4 linked regions of the Homo sapiens genome follow. The protein of the gene in region 4 purifies or fractionates together with the protein of the main gene of each other region. This does not show direct contact. Each region holds a gene or a part of one and is shown on either strand. Other genes may lie near its edges. The genes, in order: SLX4IP, COA7, PRMT3 and PDCD2L.

What was found.
Region 1: the proteins of PDCD2L (region 4) and SLX4IP purify together in Homo sapiens (affinity purification with mass spectrometry; 3 studies listed by BioGRID and IntAct, with this or other methods). This does not show direct contact.
Region 2: the proteins of PDCD2L (region 4) and COA7 purify together in Homo sapiens (co-immunoprecipitation; 2 studies listed by BioGRID and IntAct, with this or other methods). This does not show direct contact.
Region 3: the proteins of PDCD2L (region 4) and PRMT3 purify together in Homo sapiens (affinity purification with mass spectrometry; 4 studies listed by BioGRID and IntAct, with this or other methods). This does not show direct contact.

The regions. Positions count from the first base shown.
Region 1 is NC_000020.11:10,620,293-10,627,324, reverse strand, and holds part of SLX4IP (protein SLX4IP), read right to left. Parts: intron 6,012-7,032; coding exon 5,911-6,011; intron 4,667-5,910; coding exon 3,946-4,666; 3' UTR 1-3,945.
Region 2 is NC_000001.11:52,683,917-52,688,347, reverse strand, and holds the end of COA7 (cytochrome c oxidase assembly factor 7), read left to right. Parts: intron 1-179; coding exon 180-628; 3' UTR 629-3,899; downstream 3,900-4,431. UniProt on the Homo sapiens protein: Required for assembly of mitochondrial respiratory chain complex I and complex IV.
Region 3 is NC_000011.10:20,502,697-20,509,728, reverse strand, and holds the end of PRMT3 (protein arginine N-methyltransferase 3), read right to left. Parts: intron 1,426-7,032; coding exon 1,316-1,425; 3' UTR 391-1,315; downstream 1-390. UniProt on the Homo sapiens protein: Protein-arginine N-methyltransferase that catalyzes both the monomethylation and asymmetric dimethylation of the guanidino nitrogens of arginine residues in target proteins, and therefore falls into the group of type I methyltransferases.
Region 4 is NC_000019.10:34,399,441-34,407,411, reverse strand, and holds the start of PDCD2L (programmed cell death protein 2-like), read right to left. Parts: upstream 3,014-7,971; 5' UTR 2,982-3,013; coding exon 2,874-2,981; intron 2,764-2,873; coding exon 2,597-2,763; intron 2,483-2,596; coding exon 2,422-2,482; intron 1-2,421. Other genes in the region: GPI (glucose-6-phosphate isomerase), read right to left, coding at 7,376-7,511, 7,627-7,693, 7,781-7,856. UniProt on the Homo sapiens protein: Over-expression suppresses AP1, CREB, NFAT, and NF-kB transcriptional activation, and delays cell cycle progression at S phase.

The sequences.
Region 1 (7,032 bases), on a different chromosome or scaffold from region 4:
CGTGTTTCAGTTCATTAATGTTTCAATAATAAGGAATGAATTCTCTTGTCTTGACAAACCAAGCATGGAAATTTCCCCATAAGAGAAAAGAAGAAATTAAAATGATTTCCATATTCAAGTCACAGCACGCTGAAAAGAGAACTTTGAGTTCTTAGGAAAGGCATCTGTTACCTCCAAAGGAGGGCCACTCATTACAGTTTTGTGTAATATTACAGTAAGGTCTGCCAAGAAGGAATTCAAGGAAATTGGGAATGACGACACTGTGATCCCAGGCCACTCTCTTGAGCAGAGGTTTCCTTCCCTTATGTGTTCTGCCCTCGCCAAGCTCTTTCTGAAATCAGAGGCCACTGACATGCATAACAAACCATGCTAAAATCCAAACATGACACCAACAGCAAACAATTACACTGTGATCCCATTGTGGTCCCCAAGATATATCTTGAGATACTTCAGAGAGAAGCTATATTCTTCATAAATCAAAATACAGAGGGTTTTTATGATTCTTGCTTTTTATAAAATGAAATACACTTCTATAGTATTAAAATAAGTGAACAAAAGAACTACAGCACTTACTCCCCTACCCCCAAATGTTTGCTTCTTTGCATTTCACAATTCATATGCATATCTGGACGACAGTTAACCTCCAGTGGCAAAGATAAGAAAATGTGAAAGAAAAATCATACAGATTGTTCCCAGACCTTTCTTGTTTATGGACATTAAAATAACCTCAACACCAATCTATTAAGATGCCATCTGAAAGCACATGGAAGTGGCTTAGAATCTATGCCGCTGAGAAAGTTAGGAAATTCAAAGTTATAACATTAATCAAATCATATCAATGACTTCTCCAAGCATTGGAGTCACAGGGACTTGAATATAATTTGGGGTACTACGCAAGTGGTTGAAGAACTTGTTCTTTTTGACTAACAATACTGACACTGTTTCAGACTTTCAGATGCCAAATTATTAAGATCATTAAGAATGTCAAAACAGGCCGGGTGCGGTGGCTCTCACCTGTAATCCCAGCACTTTGGGAGGCCGAGGCGGGCGGATCACGAGTCAGGAGATCGAGACCACCCTGGCCAACACGGTGAAAACCCGTTTCTGCTAAAAAAAAAAAAAAAAAAAAAAAAATACAAAAAATTAGCCGGGCGTGGTGGCGAGCGTCTGTAGTCCCAGCTACTCAGGAGGCTGAGACAGGAGAATGACGTGAACCCAGGAGGCGGAGCTTGCAGTGAGCCAAGATCGCCCCACTGCACTCCAGCCTGGGCGACAGAGCGAGACTCTGTCTCAAAAAAAAAAAAAAAAAAAAAAAGAATGTCAAAACACATACCATTCCCAACAGTGAGAACTCTTCATATCCTACCTAATAAGCAACAACAACAAAAAACCCCTGGCATCCATTTACCCCTTTGTACTTCCAAATATCCAAAGAATCATGCAACCACTCAAATAACAAGAGAGCCAGGGGTGTTTCAGCCATGTGCAAGAAAAATGCTTAAAGGCAAAATTCCTCAAACACATGTCACAGTGTGGGAACTGAGAGCCATTCCCTCTGTAAATCCTGTTAAAATCCCTTTTACATGAAGGGACGTGAGGGCTGTGAGGAAAACTACATCTATCTACAACCAAAGGTGCTATTTTTTCTCTTCGATCACAGTAATTGTTATATCCCCAACTATAACAAACTCTAAAGCCAAGACTTTTCCTGACAGAGAATCATTCTAAGTACAAGTACTAGCCTTAACCACCAAGCCCAGGTTAGCTAATGAAATAAAAATTTCTCAATACCAGAGTGATACTTCAGAGAAAGATTAGAAGAAAACAGAAATAACAAAAAACCAACAGAACAAACAAATAAAAACTTCTCAATAGAAATGTTCTCTGGTGGCTCCAGCTCAAATATCTCCCCCCTAGTTCTGGAGCAGGCAGTGGCTACTGTTCTAGTACAGCCGTCTTTTTAATTCCAGACTCTTCCAGAGAGCTGCTTCTTGGTCTATCCCCTGGGTTACTTATTACTTGTGCCCTCCCTATATCTAAATCGTTCTAATTGCTTCTGTTTAAGAAGATTCAGTGACACACTGTGGTCCTGTGTTCAATAAAGAGCACACCTAAAATACTGTTTGCTCTAAGAGAGGCGCCTACAGTGGGCCATGGAAATGCACATTCTACCAGGTACTCGGTTTCCACTCTGTGCAGCCCACCCCTATTGTATAAGCAGAGTCAGCTCCACTGAAGTTAGTATTCTGTTGGGCTCCCTCTTCTCCTATAGAATCCCCTGACTGGGTTCCGCTGGGAGCAGGAAAAAAGCCAAGAGGGAAGAGGACAGGATACCAGTAGGAAGGGCTGTTTCAAGTGGGGGTGGTGAGGCTGGGATCATGGGACAGGAACAGGTTTCTAGGCAGGGTTTGGAACATTAAAGTAACAGTATCTACCACCACAGTCAGGCTTGGTGACCAAGATGGAATTTCATGACCCAAAATGGTGCCATGAAATATAGCTGCTGCTTCATGAGTCTTACTGGTCTTAACAAGTGGGGACAGGAGATACGGGAAAGGATAGAACGGGATGGAATAAACCACTAATCCATCTCAAGCATGAACCTACACTATGCCTGTTTCTGTACTCTTGTCATTGTTTTGGGCTTTTCTGGGTGATTTTTCTGCTAACTTCAACACTTTAGGGAATATACTTGGTTTTCCTTATTACTTAGGGGAGGTGCCATTTCAAAGGACCACCCCATGTTGAACAGAAAAAAAAAAAAGATGTATTGAATGAATGGACCTTGAATATTGTTTCTTTCCTCTTTTAGAGTGAAATTCGGTTATTGGAAACTTTTAGCGGGTGTCCATCCAAAATAAGTCATTGCTACAATTCACTATGTGACATTTCATCAAGCCCACTGGAGACAGTGGGTGACATTGTAAAGGGAAGGCTCCCATCTTGAAATTTGAACTGCCTGCGAAGCCTTCCAACTGGGAAACTGGAACCTGGTCACTGAGTTCCTGTTAGGTTATAGTCTGTCCCAAACCAAAATCCTGGAGGTGGGTGCAAGAGCAGGGACTGGGACATGCTTGAGCTACAGGCAACAACGAGCCTCTCTGATGTCTTCTCCTAAGGTTGGGCAGAATCGCCCATCGACTTCAACAATTATAAGGGAAAGTAACACCTTCATGGGTGCCATGGCTGCCATACTGTAGAACCCGGAAGAGAGTGACCCATACACCAAACCCAAGTGTTTTACGAGTTTGAGGGAGTCCGAGGGGATGCATGTGCACATCTGGCCCCAACTGGTGAGCTGGAGGCCATGGCAACCAGGCTGCAGGAAGCACTGGGGAGTGTTCTATTAGTCCAGTGGTTCTCAAACGCGAGCATGTTTCAGAATCACCCAAAGGCAGTTACTCAGCATGGGGCAGGGCCCAATAACCACATTTCTAGCACATTTCCAGACAACGAAGCTGGTCCCAGGACCACGCGCTAAGAACCACTAGCTTGTTCTTTCACTGCCCTCCTACTCAGGCTGAGGAGCAGGGGGATGGATTGTACCCCTGGAGCTGAAAGGCAGCACGGCAGCACTGTCTTTGCACGGTCCATTGTGTGGTCTGCACAGTGATGTGCCAAGAAGGGGCTCATGATCAGTTTCTTCATGCAGTCCTTGCACAGTCTCCTCCCTGACAAGGTGGATGGCTCTTTGTCATTACTAATTCTCTGAAGACAGTCATAAAATACAATGATAAAGAAGCAACGCTGTTAGAACAAGCATATAGCCTCCCGGTTTGAAATGCTTTGAAAACAAACCATAGCCATAACACAGATAACACACTTCCTATTTAAATTAGTCATTCTAATTAATTCCTTTAAAATCCCGGCATCTATATTCGCAGCTCTCTTGTCACAGGTTTGGCCACTATGTCCTCAACTCCAACGGTACAAACCTCTTCGGTGTTAATGGCCTCTTTCGTATTTCTTTCTTTTCTTGGTTGGGCTGTTCTGAATTGTAGATAATCTTTCAGTGTTTGTGGCTAAGCCGGTTTGCTGTGCCTGCCCTGGGTTATTTTTCATAAGATGTCTGGAGGAGAGACTTTCCAAAACATGCAACTCTTCCTTAGACGTGGTTTTTGCCAAATCTTGTTTCAAAAGTAACCCTGGATCTGACAACTCTGAAGCTGGCAAAACCCTGACAGCTTTGCTTTTTTCCACTATTATTTCTCTCGGGACTAATCGATCACTTCCAAGAGAAACTCTCCCGTGGTGGTCGAAGTCTTCCGCAGAGCTGCAGTTCCTGCGTTTCTGTTGGGTTTTGGCCACTCGTGGACTTTGTTTTGGACATGGTGATGCTGACTCACAGCTACAGACGGGGCTCCTGCTTAGAAGCCCTGTCTTTAACCGCTCCCCAGGATGAGGTTTTTGCTGGCCACTAGTGTCTTCTGGCTGGGTCTGATTAACTTTTTCCAGCTTTTGAACAGGAAGCCCCCAGTGGCTCTCAGCTGCCTTTATGGAATCCTTTGCTTGTCCCATGGATTCTGATGGGGGACTGGAGGAAGCCTGACCATCATTCCTCCTCCTTGCTATCTCTGCAATCACTGAGTCACTAGATGTTTCCACAGTGTCTCTTCTGGTCTGCGATTTGCTCGTGACACTGCTTTTTGTTTCAGTTCTTTTCACACTGAAACAAACAAAAATGATTTTATGGTTTGTAAAGCTGTCACTGCACTGTTTCCTCCAGATTCCCTCTACCACATTTCCTACACCTGAAAAAGGAGGCAGGCACTACCTGCCCTCTCGCTTCCCCAGCAAATCTGGAAACACTCCCCACCACAGGTGTATGTTTAAATGCAGACTGAATCAAGCAAAAACCTTCACATATTCCATTATACATGATACTGCTTATCAATCATTGGGTTAAAAATGGATTTATGATGGCGTTCACATTTTAACTAAGGTAAATAGGTATTCATTTCCAATGTTAAGGGTCAGTACTGCCTATATACTGATTTTTTTTTTCCAGGAGTAGACTCAGGCTCTGTGTACACAAATGTACACATACACACAATTTCTACTTGTGAGTAAAGAAAAATCTTCTGGAATTTCTCTCAGGCTATTTCAAGATGTTACCCAAATATAACCACCATTTAGCTGGTATCAGGTTTGTTGACCAAACTTGATCAACAAATGGGAGTAGGACTTAGTTAATATAATTTGAAATGTCCTGGAAGAAATTTCAGATAGTCAGCATGAAAGGCAATAAAATACAATCGTGGAAGACAAAAGAGTGTCGATATAGCTGTATATAAGCCCCTTGCTCCTTACAGCGTGCACAACAGACAATGTAACTTCACTCTGATGATAAAGTGAACTTTGAGGGGCAGGATAGAAGCTGCACAGGGAGAATTAGAGACTAAAGATGTTAACTTCAGCATATATTTACAGGTTTGTGAATGGCAAGAAATTTCCTCAACCACCAAAACATTGAAAGCTGAAATATTTATTTCGGCTAGCTTCAGTGTGAAAACAAATACATGTAATATTCATGTTCTTACTGTTGACACCAGGAGCATGAGGATTATCGTAATTATATTAAAGTCGGAACAAGGATCCTAGGAAAGGAATTTTTTTTTTTCTAGATCTGTCTGTAGTCCCTCCGAAAGTGGTATGAAACACACCACCAACAGGTGCTTTTCATCTTCAAAGAACGTGTCATTAATTACTCCTTGCAACACACCTGTGAAGCAAGGATTCTATCCCTATTGTCCAGAAAGCAAGAGAGTCAGGAGGGAGGGGAGAGTAAGTACGTGACGGAGGGGAGTTTGTGCTTCAGTTCCAGGCACTCTGTTTAATTCTGGACTTCATGTTATCTATCCATACATAGAGACAGGCAAAAATGAGAAAAAGGAAACACATTGCACCTACATTTCTTTCAGAGCATTTCTCCGGAGCTTTGCACTGGGAGGAAGTGAACTCTCTGCACACTCAGCAAAGTAATCAGACACTCCATGGAGAACTCTTTCTGTCTACTCCAAAAGATAACAAAGGTTCAACCAGAAATCTATTAGCTGAACATGAGAGAAAACAGTTACACTCTGAATGCCCCAATGAACACATTTATTTTTGTAAAGACTGAATGAAACTGCTCAGTGGTAAGCTATTTTAACCTTTTTTACCTAGGACTTTATGGTTAATTGTAACTTCTTTTGGACTCCCAGTCCACATTTCATACATTAACATGCGTCATAAACATACAAAACTGTAAGGCAAATAATGTTGATTCCAAACCATCTGGGAACTCTTGGCCAATATCTGGTATCTGTGAGGCTCAGGCTGTGACAAAAGCCCCAGAATCCTACTGTGTGGGGCAACGTGCCTGTGAGCTCTGTTCTTCTAGCAAGACCTGGTGACACAGTGGTCTACACCCTTATCATCCTAAGAATTCCCCATATTTTCTCTATCTGCAAAAACAAAGAATATTTTGTGGCCGGGTGCAGTGGCTCACGCCTGTAATCCCAGCACTTTGGGAGGCCGAGGCAGCCAGATCACGAGGTCAGGAGATCGAGACCATCCTGGCTAACACGGTGAAACCCCGTCTCTACTAAAAATACAAAAAAAACTAGCGGGACGTGGTGGCAGATGCCTGTAGTCCCAGCTACTTGGGAGGTTGAGGCAGGAGAATGGCGTGAACCCGGGAGGCGGAGCTTGCAGTGAGCCGAGATGGCACCACTGCACTCCAGCCTGGGCAACAGAGCGAGACTCTGTCTCAAAAAAAAAAAGAATATTTTATCACACCCAAGACCATAGCAACAGTCAAATCTTTTAATATTGGTATTTTGAAAACTGTAGTTTGTGATTCTTGGCTACCAAAAAATTCGGGACTTTTTTCCTTATACTAACCACCACTCTGGTTTTATATAATTCATAGATTATCTGCCTATCTAGCCTTTTGTGTTCCCATGGAAGCATCATAAGGAAGTAATTATAAAATGTAAAAGCCTACCTACCTTGCCAACATTAACCCATTTCATGCTTTTGGAATCTCTT
Region 2 (4,431 bases), on a different chromosome or scaffold from region 4:
ATTGCTTTAGCCGGAGGTTGAGGCTGCAGTGAGCCGTGATCATGCCAGTGCACTCCAGCCTGGTTAACAAAGCAAGACCCTTTCTCCAAAAAAAAAAAAAAAATTCACTGACTTTGGCCTGAGACATTTAGGTTGTGCCCTGGCTTGGGTTTATTTTTTCCTACTTTCCTTCCTCTCAGGTGGTCTGACCCAGGACCTGAAAGCTGCCGCCAGGTGCTTTTTGATGGCGTGTGAGAAGCCTGGAAAGAAGTCAATAGCAGCATGTCACAACGTTGGCCTCCTGGCACATGATGGACAGGTTAATGAGGATGGCCAGCCTGACTTGGGAAAGGCCAGGGACTACTACACAAGGGCCTGTGATGGTGGCTATACTTCCAGTTGCTTCAACCTCAGTGCCATGTTCCTGCAGGGTGCCCCAGGCTTTCCCAAGGACATGGACCTGGCATGTAAATACTCCATGAAAGCCTGTGACCTGGGTCATATCTGGGCCTGTGCCAATGCCAGTCGCATGTACAAGCTGGGGGATGGTGTTGATAAGGATGAGGCCAAGGCCGAGGTGCTAAAAAATCGAGCCCAGCAGCTACACAAAGAACAGCAGAAAGGTGTCCAACCCTTAACATTTGGGTAATGTGGTCCACCCTCCCTCCCAGGCAACAAACTGCTTGAGGCTGGCAGCTCCTGTTTCTGAAGACTGATGCAGCCCTTGAAGGTCAACCTGCTGGAGCAAAAAAACTTGGGACTTGAATTTGTAGCTCCATTTACATGGATCCATTGCCCCAGCTACTGGAGTATAGCCTACAATGTTTATTTCAGTCAATATTCCTTTATCTGGGTGTTCTGTACAATGTTTATTACAGTCAATATTCCTTCATCTGGATGTTCTGTGAAGATAGCCATGTTTATGGGGGTCTTAGTTTTCAAACTCTGGCAACTCTGTGAAAAATAGGAGCAAACTAGAGAGCCCTGGAGATTGGTAGTAGGGAAGGGAGGATAGCAGGAAGTTTGAAAAATTAGCAGCCCCGGGGCCTAAAGGAATCAGCTGTCATCATTTTCATCATTATTATTTTGGTTAGGATGGCTTGAAAATCAGAACGTATCTTGGTTTACGTAATTGAGGTCTTAAAGAACTAAGAACAGTTAAATAGTCACAACTACCACCCTCTGACTTACATAATCATTGGTGTGGGCTTCGTTTTGCCTTTAGAGTCACATCTTTCAGTAAATTCACAGAGATCAAGAGGGACGTGCAACATACAGCTTAAAGGCTGTTATGCTTCAGGGTTGCTGAAGAAGATGAAACATCAGCCTGCCATCGTCTAGAAGAGACATTGGCAGTTAAAAATTAGCACCTCCAGTGTAGTCGCCTGGCACTGCCCATCATGCTGAGGGAGCAGATTCTTCCCAAGGCAGCTTCAGCTAGGAGTTTGTAAGCAAGGACTTTGTGACACATTTGTCCCCTGGAACTGAGCCTTTTTAACTGTCCCTGTGAATGAACAATTTTGAGTGACCTACGGTTTGTGTTAATTAGTGTTCTTTCCAGATTCCAGGTACCGTAGAGAGTATGTTCTTTGTGGTGGTTGTGCCTTTTAAGAACATTTGTGGCCGGGCACGGTGGCTCACGCCTGTAACCCCAGCACTTTGGGTGGCCAAGGCGGGTGGATCACGAGATCAGGAGATCATGACCATCCTGGCTAACACGGGGAAACCCCATCTCTACTAAAAAATACAAAAAATTAGCCGGGCGTGGTGGCAGGCGCCTGTAGTCCCAGCTACTGGGGAGGCTGAGGCAGGAGAATTGCTTGAACCCGGGAGGCGGAGCTTGCAGTGAGCTGAGATTGCGCCACTGCCCTCCAGCCTGGGCGATAGAGTGAGACTCCGTCTCAAAAAAAAAAAAAAATTTGCTTTTTCTGTTGTCTCCCCAGCTTGTCACCAGGGGGCGAGCTTGCCATTTCCCTGCTGGTAACAATACCATTCTGTCACCATCTACTGTTTTAGGCTTCCGTTTTGCAGCCGTCCTGAAAGGAAGGCTTGCTGTGTAAATGAAGGCTTGTGAGCACAGCAGCCAGCCTCTCAAGTTGATAGAGGACAGGGACTTCCCCAAGTGCACAGAGGAGATTTCAAAAGACATCAAATTCACTTTTTAAAAATGTAAAGTAGCTTTTGGTGTGCTTAAACTAGGTCAGGCCAGGCGTGGTGGCTCATGCCTGTAATCCTAGCATTTTGGGAGGCCAAGGCAGGTGGATCACTTGAGGTCAGGAGTTCGAGATCAGCCTGGCCAACATGACGAAACCCCTTTCTCTACTAAAAATATAAAAATTAGCTGGGCGTGGTGATGCATACCTGTAATCCCAGCTACTTCGGAGGCTGAGGCAGGAGAATCACTTGAACCTGGGAGGCAGAGGTTGCAGTAAACTGAGACTGTGCCACTGCACTCCAGCCTGGGCAACACAGCAAGACTCTGTCTCAAAAACAAAAACAAAACTAGGCCAGGTGCAGTGGCTCACGCTTGCAATCCCAGCACTTTGGGAGGCCGAGGCAGGCGGATCACGAGGTCAGGATTTCGAGAACAGCCTGGCCAACATAGTGAAACCTCGTATCTACTAAAAATACAAAAATTATCTGGGTGTGGTGGTGGGCACCTGTTGTCCCAGCTATTCAGGAGGCTGAGGCAGGAGAATCGCTTGAACCCAGGAGGTGGAGGTTGCAGTGAGCCAAGACCATGCCATTGCACTCCAGCCAGGTAACAGAGTGAGACTCTGTCTCAAAAAAACACACACACACACACACACAAAACTGTAGGTCAAAAAACATGAAAATATGTTCAACATCACTAATTAGGGAAATGTAAATCAAAAACCACAATGAACTCTTAAAATTCAACAGTAAGAAAACAACCTGATTAAAAACAGGCCAAAACCCTTAACATATCTCAGCAAAGAAGATAGACAGGTGGCAAATAAGCATATGAAAAGATGTTCCATATAACATGTCATCAGGAAAATGCAAGTTAGAACAACAGACCACTATACAACTATTAGAATGGCCAAAATCCAAAGCACCGACAGCATGAAATGCTGGGAAAGTTGGAGCAACCAGAACTCTTATTCCTTGCTGGTGGGAACGCAAGATGGCACAGCCACTTTGGAAGACAGTTAAGCAGTTTCTTACAAAAACTAGGTAAGCTCTTACCATGTGATCCAGCAATCTTGCTCTTTAGTATTTACCTGAAGGAACTGAAAACATGTCCACACAAAAACCAGCACATGGATGTTTATAGCAGCTTTATCTATAATTGCCAAAACTCAACCCAAAATGTCTTTCAGTAGGTAAATGGGTAAATAAATTGTGGTGCATGTAGTCATTATTCAGTGCTTAAATCAAGCTATGACAAATTATGAGTTATCAAGCTATAAGAAGTCACAGAGGAACTTAAATGAATGCTACTAAATGAAGCCAGTCTGAAAAGGCTTCATATTAAATGATGCCAACTATATGACACTGGGATGTATTCTGGAAAAGGCAAAACTATGGAGACAGTAAAAAGCAGTGGGTGGGGGAGGGGAGGGAGGAATAATTGGAGCACAGAAGATTTTTAGGGCAGCGAAACTACTCTGTATGATACTATAATTATAAATACCTGTCATTGTACATATGTCCAACCCCCTAAAATGTACAACACCAAGAGTGAACCCTAATGTAAACTGTGGACTTTGAGTGATAATGATGTGTCAGTGTAGGTTCATCAATTACTGCAAATGTACCTCTTTGGTGGGAGATGTTGAAAATGGTGGAGACTATGCATGTGTGGGGACAACAACTATATGGGAAATCTCTGTACCCTCTCAATTTTGCTGTAAACCTAAAATTGCTCTAAAATATAAAGTCTATTAAAACCACAATGATATTGCCTCATATCCCATTAGGATGGCTACTATTAAACACCAAAACAAAGTAAGTGTTGTCAAGGATACAGAGAAATTAGAACCCTGTGAACTGGTGCAGCTCCCCCAAAATGAAAAACAGAATTGCCGTTTGATCCAGCCATTCCACTTCTGGGTACATATCTGTGTTAGGCCATTCTTGCATTGCTATAAAGAAATACCTGAGACTGGGTAATTTATAAAGAAAAGTTTAATTGGCTCAGGAAGCATGGTGCTGTGCATCCTATTGGCTTCTGGTGAGGCCTCAGAAGCTTACAGTCATGGTGGAAGGCACAGGGGGAGTCAGTGTATCACATGGTGAGAAGGCAAGAGCAGGAGCAAGAGAGTGAGCAAGGGGAGATACCACACACAAATCTCCTGAGGACAGCACCAAGGGGAGGGTCCTAAACCATTCATGAGAAATCCTCCCCATGATCCAATCACCTCCCACCAAGCTCCACCTCCAACATTGGGGATTAAATTTCAACGTGAGATTTGGGGGACAAGTATC
Region 3 (7,032 bases), on a different chromosome or scaffold from region 4:
TTAAACAATCCTCCTGCCTTGGCCTCCCAAAGTGTTGTGATTATAAGCATGAACCACCATGCCTGGCCCTGTTTTTTACTTTTAATTAATTAACTTTTCTAGAGACAGAGTCTTTCTCTGTTACCCAGGCTGGAGTGCAGTGGCACGATCTTGACTTACTGTAGTTTCCAACTCCTGGACTCAAGCAATCTGCTCACCACAGCTTCCCAAGTAGTTAGGACTACAGGCATGCACCACTATGCCTGGCTAATTTTTTTAAAAGAATTTTTTGTACAGACCTGTGTTGCCTAGGCTGCTCTCAAACTCCTGGGCTTAAGTGATCTTCCTGCCTTGGCCTCCCAAATGCTGGGATTATAGGTATGAGCTACCATACCCTGTTGAAATATTTTATAATGTTGTTTGATATATTTTATTGAAAACTTTTATAATATCAATATTTTTAAAATATTTTATAAGTTGATACATTTTATTAAAATTTTATTCTACATTTCAAATTGAATCAGTAATTGTAAATGACAACTTTATAGACTGCTTAGTAACAGTTACATGTTTAACCTTTGCACATAAATCTGGTTTGAAAAAGATAATACGTTAGTAAATAAGTACATATTTATCCCAATCTTTAAAAACTTTCATGAAACCTAGGATAAATGTATTGAAATTAGATTTCCTGGGCAGTACTAGAAATCTATAAGGCTAAGGAATAGTCACAAAGAGGGAAGAAACTACAAAATGAGAACCCTAAGTATGCTAGATAATCAACTAGGCTGTCTGCATATATGATTTGTATATGAAGGCTGAAGCTCTTTTCCATATTTTAGTTTTTTTATACAAATCTTTATTACATCCTGATTTTCTAGCAAATACAATTAAAAACTCCTCCTCAGAGGAGTCCATAATAAAATGTGTAGTACCTGTGTTACTAGTTTAATAAAATATCCAAATAACTAACCAATTTGTTTAAAATTTATAGTAAGAAACTTATTAAAAACAAAAGACTATCTCTCTTCCAAATATAGGCCAATGTAAATGATTTTCAATATAGATAAACTCAATGTGGGAGTTACATTTGGTTAAATCTGGTGGAGCAAACGTCTAAGAAAATGATTACGTGGCAGACCATGAGGATCAGCTGATTCTCTTCCTCAGCTGAACTATGTCAGATTCCCACAATGAGAACTTCTCTCTTATTGAGGAGGCTCATTAGGAAAGGGTCCATCATCCATCCATCTGCTCACATAAAACCAGCTCCCTCCTGCTGACCCACTCTACCCCCACATTAAAAACTACAAGGTAGTGTGCTTTTATGGCTGTTTCACTGGAGACCATAAGTTTGAGTTGAATTATTCAACGTGAGGGTCACGGTGAGAGAACGTGGATCTTTCTTATTCTTGTGAACTGTGACCTTTCCTTTCAAGGCTTCACCTGTAAAACAAAGGCAAAAATTGTTAAGAATTCAAGGAATACAGTGTAGCAGAAAAGTAAACAATGTATAACTAGCACTTCTTTTTATTGTGATGTTTTCCCACTTTTTAAACTTTATTTAAGGTTAATATTCTTTTTTTTTTTTTTTTTTTTTAAGATGGAGTCTCACTCTGTCACCCAGGCTGGAGTGCGGTGGTGTGATCTCAGCTCACTGCATTCTCCCAGGCTGGAGTGCACTGGTGCAAGCTTGGCTCACTGCAACCTCCGCCTCCTGGGTTCAAGAGATTTTCCTGCCTCAGCTTCCCGAATAGCTGGGACTACAGGCGCATGCCACCATGCCCAGCTAATTTTTTATTTTTAGTAGAGATGGGGTTTCACCATGTTGGCCAGGCTGGTCTCGAACTCCTGACCTCAGGTGATCCACCCGCCTCAGCCTCCCAAAGTGCTGGGAATACAGGAATGAGCCATTGTGCCCAGCCAATATTCATTTTTTAGAGCAGCATTATGTTTCATTAATTTTTTTTTTAAGACAGTCTCTCTCTGTTGCCCAGGCTAGAGTGCAGTGGTACAATCCCAGTTGACTGCAACCTCTGCCTCCCGTGTTCAAGTGATTTCTCCTGCCTCAGCCTCCCAAGTAGCTGGGATTACAGGCATGCGCCACCATGACCTGCTAATTTTGTATTTTTAGTAGAGACAAGGTTTTGCCATTTTGGCCAGGCTGGTCTAGAACTCCTGACCTCAGGTGATGCGCTCACCTACCTCAGCCTCCCAAAGTGCTGGGATTACAGGCGTAAGCCACTGCGCCCAGCCCTGTTTCATTAATTTTTGAATGAAGCGAGAACTAACTACATACCACAGTGTCAAATCCTTGTGAAAGTGAGTAAAACTATTGTGGTCATAAAGGGTCAATGGAAGCATTTTACTGAACTTCTAAATATGAGGCCCTATGGTGGGTTCTGGGCATCTAGAAAAAAGATATGGTCCCTGCCCTCAAAGAGTTTGTGATCAGGGTGAAGAAAAAAGCTATACTAACAATTACACAATAGGCATGTGTCTAAAGTGTGCTGGAGGTGAGCACTGGGGATGGTTGGAAGGCAGTTAAAGGCAAGGTTTCACAAGAATTAATGAATTACCCAATGCCAGGGCTGAAGTCATGGAGAACCAGGCTTAAGGGATGTACATGTAATGGTATTTAAGGAAAACACATACACAGAACCTTCAGGAATGGCATTTTGAGGAACTGAAAATTATAGCTGGGAAAATGTAGAGGCACATGACAAAGCCATTGGCCATTGATGCACTGGTGCTGTAAAAGGGAAACAATGTACCCATGTGAAACAGTGAACACACAAAAATTACTTACCTGTGCAAAGGCTGATTTCCTAAATTCTGTAGGTTCCAAATTTTTATCTATGTACTTTTCTAATTATAAATACTTCTCATTTAATTTTTCATTTATTTTAAAGAGCTGTTTAAAAAGTAACAAATTGCTAAGTTGTAGTTGATCACCATTCTTTGCTTAAATAATATTAAGATAACACCAAACAGTGTCAGGAATAGCTTTAGCATCTGCATGGACACAATGAGGCTCCATATAATGACCAAGGAAATCTACATAAAACTATTGAAGTACTGAATGAATATCGTATTTAAAAAAATACAAATTCCCCATATTCAAGGAAAATTATCTGAATGCTTTTCAAGATGGTAGTGAAATAACACAAGTAAAACATAACCACCTGTTATATTTATTTTCAGAATATAAAGATTCCATTACTGATACCTTCTCTACATCTTTGCAAAAAAGGTGAGACTCACAGTTTAACACATAATTAAGGAGTTAAATAATAGAAGAAATAATGTGGCCCAAGGTGCAATCCATTCAACAAAATATAACAATTTTTGTGTACGTATATATGTTAATGTGTATATTTGGCTTTAGCTTTTATATCTGACCTATTCCTCTATATTAAGAAAATGATATAAAACTATCTCATATGACATGTTCACCAATAGTGGACATAATAAAGATTACCAGTCAGATAGTTCTACAAACTTTATGGAGTTCAGGTTAATCATTAGATAATTTATGCTTATATTTATTCAACACTTACTTTGTGCTAGGCTCTACTCTAAGGTCTTTACATGATTTATCTCACTTAATGGTCACAAAATATTGCTATGAGGTAAGCGCATTTTCCTTACTCACAGATGAAGTTCAGAAAAGGTAAGTAATTTGCCCAAGGTCATCTGCCAGCTAGTGAAAGAACTAGGATTTTCAGCAAGGCAGTTTGATTCCAGAACCCAAGTTCCTCAACTATACTCTGGTGCTTCCCTATCTCTATCTAAAAAAATGATGATTATAGCTTTAAATATACTATAATGAATAAGAAATAGACCTAAATTTTACCGCCCCGTGGGTTTTGTTTTTTTTTTTTGGTAAAAATATTTACTTGTTTATAAACACAATTGATATGTAAGTTGATGTAACTATTATTCTATAATAACTAATGAACAATGATACACGTTTTCTTATCTAAGGCATTAACCTAAGGAAGAAATAAAAGATCATTAGTATATTGAACACATTTAAGATTTTCCTATTTTGACTTTTCTATTTTGGCTATTTTATTTGCTTCTTTTTAAATCAACATTTAAAAACTTCTATTTAAGTTATTTATTGACACCAAAACTGGGAACGAACAGCCACATTATGATAAACTGACAATGTTTTTGTAAATACATGACAGAGAATAGTAATTGCCAACTTGGTTATTGGGTTTAACTTACTGTTATTGAATTGCCAACACTGAATCAACAAACTTGATTTTTACAACACAGTGGCTTGTTAGTTCCTTTTTACTTACAAGCAGTATGTCTTATACAAATTACTTAATTTAGTTGCTGGTATAAAGTAGTTCACATATGAAAAGACAGATAATGGACACTTGAGATTCAAAAATAACAAAATGACCTCCAGAGACCCAACATAAAGTAAGTATTCTATTAGATGTCCTAGTCAGGACATTAAAGTGTGGAGGGAAAAAGGATACAGACTGGGGGAGGGGGAATTAAAGTTTTCATTTGCATACTACCTGGTTTTATACATAGAAAATCCTGAAGCTATATGCAAAGAAGGCTACTAGAACTATTTATTGAAGTTTAAGCAAGGTCTTATGATTTAGGATCAAGGTATAAAAATTCTATTTCTACGTACTAGCAATGAAGAATTTATATAATACTACAAACAACAGCTTCAAAAAAGCATAAAGGCTGGGTGTGGTGGCTCATGCCTGTAATACCAGCACCTTGGGAGGCCAAGGTGGGCGGATCACTTGAGACAAGGAATTCGAGACCAGCCTGGCCAACCTGGCAAAACTCTGTCTCTACTAAAAACACAAAAATTAGCCAGGCATGTGGTGCACACCTGTAGTCTCAGTTACTTGGGAGGCTGAGGCACAAGGATGGCCTGAACCCAGGAGGTGGCAGTTGCAGTAAGCAGAGATCATGCCACTGCACTCCAGCCTGGGCGACAGACCGAGTCTCAGTCGCTCTCGCTCTCTCTCTCTCTCTCTCTCTCTCTCTCTCTCTCTCTCACACACACACACACACACATACAATACTTGAGATAAATGTAACAATATATGTCTGACTTACATAAACTACAAAACAACTTTAAAGATGGTCCACATAAATGGAGAGACCCACTCTCTCGTGAGTGAAAGACTCAATGTTGTTAAGATGTCAATTTTCCCTAATCTATTGATTTAACAAAATCCCAGTCAAAATCCTAACAGGCTTTCTTAGGCCAGAAATTAATGAGCTGATTTTAAAATTTATATGGCAATATAAAGGACCTAGAATAGCCAAAACAACTGTTTGTGTAAATCTTGCCATTTTGTTCTTTTTCAATCTTATAAAGACTGTCTTAAAGGCACAAGGACAGACATACAGATCCCTGGGGGAAAATGAGAGCTCAGAAGTAGATCTATATGCATATGGTCAATTAATTTTTGACAAGGGAGCCAAGGCGATTAAATCGGAAAAGGATAGTCTTTTTAAGAAATGATGATGGAGCAAGTGAATATACATTTGGGAAAAGATGAACTATTATTAACTTTTAAATTTAACTCAATTAGATGACCACCCAATTTGAAATCAAGCAAAATATCTGAGCAGAAATCTCACAAGAAGATATAAAAATGGCCAATACACATATGAAACAATGCCCAACATCACATCAGGCAAATGAAAACTACAAGCACAGCTATAACTACATACTCAAAACGGCTTAAAATACTGCATCTTTTTTATAAGTGTTAAAAATGATGTGGAACAACTGAATTCACAATGGTGTTAGCCCTAGGGATGTTAGATAGCATAGTCATTTTTAAAAAATTTGCCAGTTTCTTATAAAGTTAAATATACACTTACCATAAGACCCAGTAATTCCACTTCTAGGTACTTACCCAAGAGAAATGAAAACATCTGTCTGCACCAAGACTTTTACATGAATATTCATAGCAACTTTATTCTTAATGGCCCCTAACTGAAAGCAATACAAAAGTCTAGCAGCAGGTGAATACCTAAGTAAACTGTGGCATAGCCAAAGGAATATTACTTGGCAATAAAAAGGAACAACCTAATGATAGAAGAATCTCAAAAAAAAAAAATGCCAAGAAAGCTAGAGTACATGCTGTATAATTCCATTGATAAAAATTCTAAAAAGGTAATACTAACATATAATGACAAAGCATATCAGTGACTGTCTTGGTCTGGGAATCACGGTTGGGGACTGACCATACAGGGAATTGCAGAAGAAACTTTTTGGAGTGATGGAAATAATCTATATTTCCACAGTGGTATATGTAATTTTCAAAACTCAATGAGCTGTACAATCAAAATGTGTGAATTTTGATTATATGTAAATTATTTGTTTAAAAATGTGGTGCCTAGGAATAAACACAGACAAATGAGAGAAATAAGATCAATTATGAAGACTCAGTACATAGTAAGTGGAGCATTTTAAGTCACTGAGGAAAGGATTCAATACATTGTACAAAAGTAGTAATATAATCTTTTAAAGGATGAAACCAAAGCCAGACACCAAAAGCAAAAGGTTGACAGATGTGACTATAAAAAATGAAAAAAAATTCTATAAAGCAAGATAGTTTAAAGAAAGAAAAGCAAATTAAAGCAGTGTCTTTGTGTAACAAGTATTTTTTAAGTCTGAATTTTGAATTGATTCTTTAGGATGGATTATCAGAAGTATAATTCCTTCATAAAAGGTATGAAATATATTCCAGTGTTACATTCCTGCCATCTTCATCAACAAAAGAGTAAATGAAAAACAACAACCAAAACGTGATTGCTCTGATTTGTATTTCAAATCAGAGGAGATAAGTACTATTTATTTAACTACCATCTAAAAAATCTGGTGCATTTACCTTACTTCTTTTCTCATTGAAGCATATGAGGTATTGCTAGTAAATATTTCATTTTTGTACATTTGTTCTGATGGTTGCTGCTCTTTCATTTACATTGCCTTTTGAGTGTTAAAAATATGTAAGCTGTCTTGTTTATAGAAGTCCTATTCAATCCTTAGTG
Region 4 (7,971 bases):
ATCCCAGCACCTCAGGAAGCCAAGGCGGGTGGATCACGAGGTAAAGAGATCGACACCATCCTGGCTACACGGTGAAACCCCATCTCTACTAAAAATACAAAAATTAGCTGGGCATGGTGGTGTGTGCCTGTAGTCCCAGGTACTCAGGAGGCTGAGGCAGGAGAATTGCTCGAACCTGGGAGGCGGAGGCTGCAGTGAGCCAAGATTGTGCTACTGCACTCCGGCCTGGCAACAAAGCGAAACTCCATCTCAAAGAAAAAAAAAAATCTGGAGTGAGCCGGGCATGGTGGCTCACGCCTGTAATCCCAGCACTTTGGGAGGCCGAGGCGGGTGGGTTGCCTGAGGTCAGGAGTTCAAGACCAGCCTGGCCAACATGGTGAAACCCTTTCTCTACTAAAAATATAAAAATTAGCTGGGCGTGGTGGCGAGTGCCTGTAATCCCAGCTACTAGGGAGGCTGAGGCAGGCAGGATAAGCGCTTGCATCCGGGAGGTGGAGGTTGCAGTGAGCTGAGATTGTGCCATTGCACTCCAGCATGGGCAACAAGAGCGAAACTCGGTCTCAAAAAAAAAAAAAAAAAAAAAAAGGAAGAAAGAAACCTGGAGCGGGAAGAATAAGGAGATGACGGTCAAAGAATACAAAACCTCAGTTATTCAGGAGGAATGTGGGTTTTTTTTAAGTTCTACTGCACAGCATGAATATAGTTAATAATAGAGTATTGTGGCTGGGCACAGGGGCTCAAGCCTGTAATCCCAGCACTTTGGGAGGCCGAGGTGGGTGGATGACAAGGTCACGAGATCAATACCATCCTGGCTAACATGGTGAAACCCTGTCTCTACTAAAAATTTAAAAAAATGAAAAAATTAGCTGGCCGTGGTGGCGGGCGCCTGTGGTCCCAGCTACTCTGGAGGCTGAGGCAGAATGGTGTGAACCCAGGAGGTGGAGCTTGCAGTGAGCAGAGACGGCGCCACTGCACTCCAGCCTGGGCAACAGAGCAAGACTCCGTCTCAAAAAAAAAAAAAAATAAGAGTATTGTGTATCTCCAAATTGCTAGAGGAAATTTCAAATGTTCTCACAAGATGTTAAGTATTTGAGGTGATGAATGCATTAACTAGCTTCATTTAATTATTCCACATGATATTCATGAATCATAGCCATCACTTTATACCTCATAAATTTATACATTATTATAAACTGTCAATTTACAGTTAAAAAAAAAAGTTGAAGAAATCCAGGAGGAAGTCTCCATCTCCCTTTTGTTTTTTTGGCAGGGGACAGGGTCTGGCTTTGTGGCCCAGGCCGGAGTGCAGTGGCACAAGTGTAGGTCACTGCAGCCTCAACCTCCTAGACTCAAGCAATCCTCCTACCTCAGCCTCCTGAGTAGCTGGCACTACAGTTGCGTGGCCATCATGCCTGGCTAATTTGTTTACTTTTTATAGAGACGATGTTTTGCTATGTTGCCCAGACTGCTCTCCCAACGTTTTTTTTTTCTTTTGTTTTGTTTTGTTTTGTTTTTACGGAGTCTGTCACCCACGCTGGAGTGCAGTGGCATGATCTCAGCTCACTGCAATCTCTGTCTCCCGGGTTCAAGCGATTCTCCTGCCTCAACCTCCCTTGTAGCTGGGATTACAGGTGTCTGCCACCATGCCCGGCTAATTTTTTGTTTTTGTTTTTAATAGAGACGGGGTTTCGCCATGTTGGCCAGGCTGGTCTCGAACTTCTGACCTCAGGAGATCCGCCCGCCTCGGCCTCCCAAAGTGCTGGGATTACAGGCGTAAGCCACCGCGCCCAGCCTGGTCTCCAACTTCTGAGCTCAAGCAATCCTCCCACTTCAGCCTCTCAAAAAACGGTGGGATCACAGGCGTGAGCCACCATGCTGGGCCTCCATCTCCTTTTAACAAAGGAGTTAGAAAATAAAAATAAAGTAAAATAGAAGAAAAAAAAAACTCTCACAAAACCTTAAGAAAGGCCGGGCGCGGTGGCTCATGCCTGTAATCCCAGCACTTTGGGAGGCCGAGGCGGGTGGATCACCTGAGGTCGGCAGTTCGAGACCAGCCTGACCACCATGGCGAAACCCCGTCTCTATTAAAAATACAAAATTAGCCGGGCGTGGTGGCATATGCCTGTAATCCCAGCTACTAGGGAGGCTGAGGCAGGAGAATCGCTTGAACCTGGGAGGCGGAGGTTGCGGTGAGCCGAGATCGCGCCATTGCACTCCAGCCTGGGCGACAGAGCGAAACTCCGTCTCAAAAAAAAAAAAAAAAAAAAACTTTACGAAAATAGCATTTTATGGTTCTTCAGAAAAGCAAAAAACACTCCAGTGTACTTCAAAGAACACGGCTTTAAAGTCTGCCCCAAACTATTCTCTGGAAAATATCCTCAAATGACAGAAAAACAATAACATGCCAATCACAACCTTTACCTGAGCGTCCTGCGCCTCTCTCTCTGGCACCTGCAGGCACTGGGAGCGGAACACCTTCCAGCTTCGGGGTGAAGACAAAGGGCCGTGAGGGCTGCACCCCGACTCCAGCCCGCCGGCCCGCCCCAGCCCGCTGGAAAGGACACCCCTGGAGCAGCTCTGGGACTTCCCCGCCTACCTGCGCGCACCGCCGGTGCTACAGCCGGGGCAGGCGCACGCGAACACGTGCAGCAGACGGTGAAACGGGGAGCCTTCCAGCGGGCAATACACCTGCACGACCAGAGCGAGCGGCTGCCCGCAGCGCTGACACACGGGCCTGGGCGCAGCCACGGTGGGCAGAGCATCCTGAGGGGACAGAGGAGGCGCTCAGACCCCGACTCCCCCCAGGACCTCGCCCACTCCCTCCGCACCCTTCAGCAGCACCCATCGACCCCAGCTCCGGCACCCGCCCTCACCGGAATGCCGCCCAGCTTGCTAGCAGTCCAGGCACCCGGCCCTGTGGGGCTGCCGTGCACCGGCGCATCTCGAAGGCCCAGCAGCACCGGCTTCAGAACGGCCGCCATGGCCGCCGGGCGACCAGGTGAAAACGCAAACTACGGCGGCCTCTCTGCGCACGCGCAACGCTACGCTAAAATGATAACCCCGCTCCCTTACTAGGATCCGATGCGGAGGCGTGGCTTTAAGGCGCGTGCGCTCAGGTCCCAGAGCCACAGAGGCGCCGCTGGCGTCAGGGGCTCGAAATCCCGGAGTCCCAGGCATTATGTGCCCCTTAATGCGCTGTGATAGGAAGTACACACCATCTACTAGGAAGTAGTTTTGCCAAAAAGCTAACTTTCTTTTTTCCTTTTTTTCCTGAGACGAGGACTTGCTATATTGCCCACACTGGTCTTGAACTCCTGGGGTTCAAGCGATCCTCCCGCCTCCGCCTCCCAAAGTGTTGCGATTACAGGTGTGAGCCACCAGAAAAAAGCCTTCCCGGAAAATAAAAATTTTAGGTGGGATAATGGTATTATCAGTCATTAACAAGAACAATAAAGTTTTTTAAAAAGTTAAAGTTTTTAATTTTTAGAGAAACACACCAAAATGCTTATAGATGAAATACCTCCGATTTGCTACTACATAATTAAGGTGGTGGGGTGTAAATACAGTAAGATTGACCATGAGTTGATAATTGTTGAAATTTGGTGCCAGGCACATGGAGATTTATTCTATTTGGGTTTTATATGTTTGAGATTTTTCAGTTTTTATTTTTGTTTTGTTTTGTTTTGTTTTTGAGACAGAGTCTTGCTGGGTCGCCCAGGCTGAAGTGCAGTGGCGCCATCTCACTGCATCTCAGCCTCCCAGGTTCAAGTGATTCTCCTGCCTCAGCCCCACCCAGTAGCTGGGGTTACAGACGCCCACCACCACGCCCGGCGCCCGGCTTTTTTTTTTTTTTTTTTTTTAGACGGAGTTTCGCTCTTGTCGCCCAGGCTGGAGTGCACTGGCGTGATCCCAGCTCACTGCAACCTCTGCCTCCCAGGTTCAAGCGATTCTTCTGCCTTAGCCTCCCGAGTAGCTGAGATTACAGGCATGTGCCACCATGCCTGGCTAATTTTGTATTTTTAATAGAGATGGGGTTTCTCCATGTTGGTCAGGCTGGTCTCGAACTCCCAACCTCAGGTGATCCGCCCACCTTGGCCTCCCAAAGTGCTGGGATTACAGGCGTGAGCCACCATGCCCGGCCTTTTTTGTATTTTTAGTAGAGACGGGGTTTCACCATGTTGGCCAGGCTGGTTTCGAGCTCCTGAAATCAAGTGATCTGCCCACCTCGGCCTCCCAAAGTGTTAGTATTACAGGTGTGAGCCACCGCGCCCAGCCACACAATACAGTTTTTTCAATTCCTGCAGCACAACATGGGTGAATTTCAAAAGCATCATGGGAAGAAGCCAGACACAAAAGGCGCCATTCTGGTAAACGCAGAACTTCGGAGGGAAAAAAATCAGTTCAATGGTAGTCAGGAGTTGGGATGAGGGAGTAGGACTGGACCACAAGTGTCAGGAACTTTTGAGGGTGAGGAAAATGCTGTATATCTCATCTGTAATGGTTCTAAGACTGTATATACACTTGTGAAAACTCATAACTGTATACCAAAGAAAGGTGAATCTTACTATATGTAAATCACACCCCAATAAACCTGACTTTTTAAAAATGCAGGCTGCAAAAACATTATTTTAGGATTCATAACGTGGTATGCAAAAGAAATGAATGTTTTCAAGGATTTACACCTCAAAGGAGGAAGCACCAGCCTTTGTGAGGTTTGGCTCTAGCCCAGCAAGGATCTGGAGATGAAACCCATTTACTCCTTTTTTTACCACACTTCATCCTGATAGCTTTAAAAGGCCCTGTGATGCTGGGCACAGTGGCTTGCGCCTGTAATCCCAACACTTTCGGAGGCCAAGGCAGGAGGATCTCTTAAGCCCAGGAGTTGAAGATAAGCCTGGGCAACACAGTAGTATTACCAGGGGAGGATCTTGACTACAAGTCGTCCAGGTTCTTGGAATATTGAACAAAGAGGTGGACAAAACACACAAAGCAACAAAAGAAGGAACAAAAGCACAGATTTATTGAAGCAAAAGTACATTCCAGAAAGCGGGATGAGGCTCAAGCAAGTGCCCTGTGTAGAAAATCTGGGGTTTAAGTACCCTTTAGAGGTTTCCTATTTGGTTACACCCTATGTAAATAAAGACTTGGCCTGCCACCAGTCAGAGGCTGAAGTGAATGCTCCTTTGTCTCCAGACCCTATTCTCTGGCCTCAGTGGGATCCTATCACTACAAAAATTTATTTTTTATTTTTCTTATTTTTTTTTTTTTACAACAGTACACTGATCTACAAAAATTTTAAAATGAGCCGGGCGCGGTGACTCACGCCTGTAATCCCAGCACTTTGGGAGGCCAAAGCAGGCGGATCATGAGGTCAGGAGATCAAGACCATCCTGGCTAACACGGTGAAACCCCGTCTCTACTAAAAATACAAAAAATTAGCCGGGTGTGGTGGCGGGCACCTGTAGTCCCAGCTACTCGGGAGGCTGAGGCAGGAGAATGGCGTGAAGCCGGGAGGTGGAGCTTGCAGTGAGCCGAGATCACACCACTGCACTCCAGCCTGGGCAACAAAGCAAGACTCTCAAAAAAGAAAAAAATTTTTTTTTAAATGAGCTGGGTGTACTGGCATGCATCTGCGGACCCAGCTACTTGGAAGGCTGAGGTGAGAAGATCACCTTAGCCTGGGAATTTGAGGCTTCAGTCAGCTATGATTGTATCACTGCAGTCCAGCCTGGGCAACAAAGACCCTGTCTCTAAGAAAAAAAAATTTTGAATAGGCTGGGTGTGGCGGCTCACGCCTGTAATCCCAGCACTGTGGGAGGCTGAGGTGGGAGATCTCTTGAGCCCTGGAATTCAAGACCAGTCTAGTCTGGGAAACACAGCAAGACCCGCCTTGCTGGGCGCGGTGGCTCACGCCTGTAATCCCAGCACTTTGGGAGGCTGAGGCGGGCGGATCACGAGGTCAGGAGATCGAGACCATCCTGACTAACACAGTGAGACACTGTCTCTGCTAAAAAAATATATAAAAAATTAGCCGGGCATGGTGGCAGGTGCCTGTACTCCCAGCTACACAGGAGTCTGAGGCAGGAGAATGGCGTGAACCTGGGAGGCGGAGCTTGCAATGAGCTGAGACCGTGCTACTGCACTCCAGCTTGGGCGACAGAGCGAGACTCCGTCTCAAAAAAAAAAAAGACCCGTCTCTCTACAAAAAATGAAAAAACTAGCAGGGCATAGTGGTACAACCTGTAGTCTCAACTACTTGGGAGGCTGAGGCAAGAGGATTACTGGCTGCAGTGAGCTGTGATCATGCCACTGCACTCCAGTCTGGGCAATGGAACAAGACCCTGTCTCAAAAAAAAAAAAAAGTTGTCAAAAAAAAAAAAAAAATGGGCCGGGCGTGGTGGCTCATACCTGTAATCCCAGCACTGTGGGAGGCTGAGGCGGGCAGATCACCTGAGGTCAGGAGTTCAAGACCAGCCTGCCCAACATGGTAAAACCCCTTCACTACTAAAAATACAAAAATTAGCTGGGTATGGTGGTGTGCGCCGTGTAATCCCAGCTACTCGGGAGGCTGAGGCAGGAGAATAGCTTGAACCCGGGAGGCGGAGGTTGCAGTGAGCCGAGATTGCACCACTGCACTCCAGTCTGGGTGACAGAGCGAGACTCAAAAAAAAAAAATTCCAGTTTTCAATATCTGCCTTTTAAAGCAAAAGAACTACCTGAGCGTCTTGCCAGGAGATGGCAGTCATCCTCGGTCTTGTCCAGGAATTCACCCGAAACAAACATAATCTCAATGCAGTTTTTAGAACCATCGAGTGAACAGAGTATCCAATTTCTGCAGTCACAGAGGTGAGGAGTGGAAAACAGTCTTGGGATTTGGTGACACAGGCCAAGTTGCCGTCCTGACTGATTGTGCCCCCACCCCACTATTGTCTTCTCAGGGCACCTTGCTCCACTCTAGACCCGCTCACCACTTAGTGTTAAGTGTCCGCAGAGGCACAGCCTGCGTCCTGCTGAGCGCTCCTGCCCTCTGCTACATAAAGCACCATCACAGGAAAAAAAAAATCAGAGGCTGAGCCTACAACCTCCTCCGTGGCATCTTTATTTTTCTACATGGGATGTGAACAACGTGAACATGGGTCAGAAAAGTCAGCTGCACAAAAACACTTCAGCCAATTCTAACACAGAGGGAGCATAGACATGGAGGGGCTGGGGGTTAGGCTGGGGGAGACCAGCCTTCCCTGCTAAGGGCTCGTGGTCCAAGCCCACAACCAGAGGGTGCTCTGGGTGGTGTCCAGGAACATGCAGTGCCGGCTCCGGGGAGGAGGGACGAGAAGAGAAAGGGGAGTCACAGAGGAGGCTGCAGATGAGCACGAGTTTATTGGACTCTGGCCTCGCGCTGCTGCTTGATGAAGTTGATGAGCCCATTGGTAGAAGCGTCGTGAGAGGTCACTTGAGCACTGCCATCAAGCTCAGGCTCTATTTTCTTAGCCAGCTGCTTTCCCAGCTCCACTCTGCCAAGAAGGGAAGGGAAGGGAAGAGTGGTATGAGGAAGGCTCTAACGTTGCTACTGAAATCCCTGAGCCGACACAAAGGTATTCCCGGCCCTCCCCTAAGTGAGCAACTCACCCCCACTGGTCAAAGCTGTTGATGTCCCAGATGATGCCCTGAACGAAGATCTTGTGCTCATACATGGCTGCAGAAGTGACAGACAGGGCACATCAGGGCTCCACAAGCCCATTCCAACCTACCCCAAGCCAGGACCTTTCCCCTACTCACTCACCGACCAAGGCTCCAAGCATGAATGGTGTGAGCTTGGTGAACACAATAGAGTTGGTTGGGCGATTTCCTTCAAAGACCTGCAGAAAACACCAAGGAATGTCTCCAAGAGAGTCCTGATCCCTAAACCCCTTGAAGGGAAGCACACCCTGCCCCAGAGGCTGAGACGTGCAGGTCTGTGAGGACAGGCCCTCC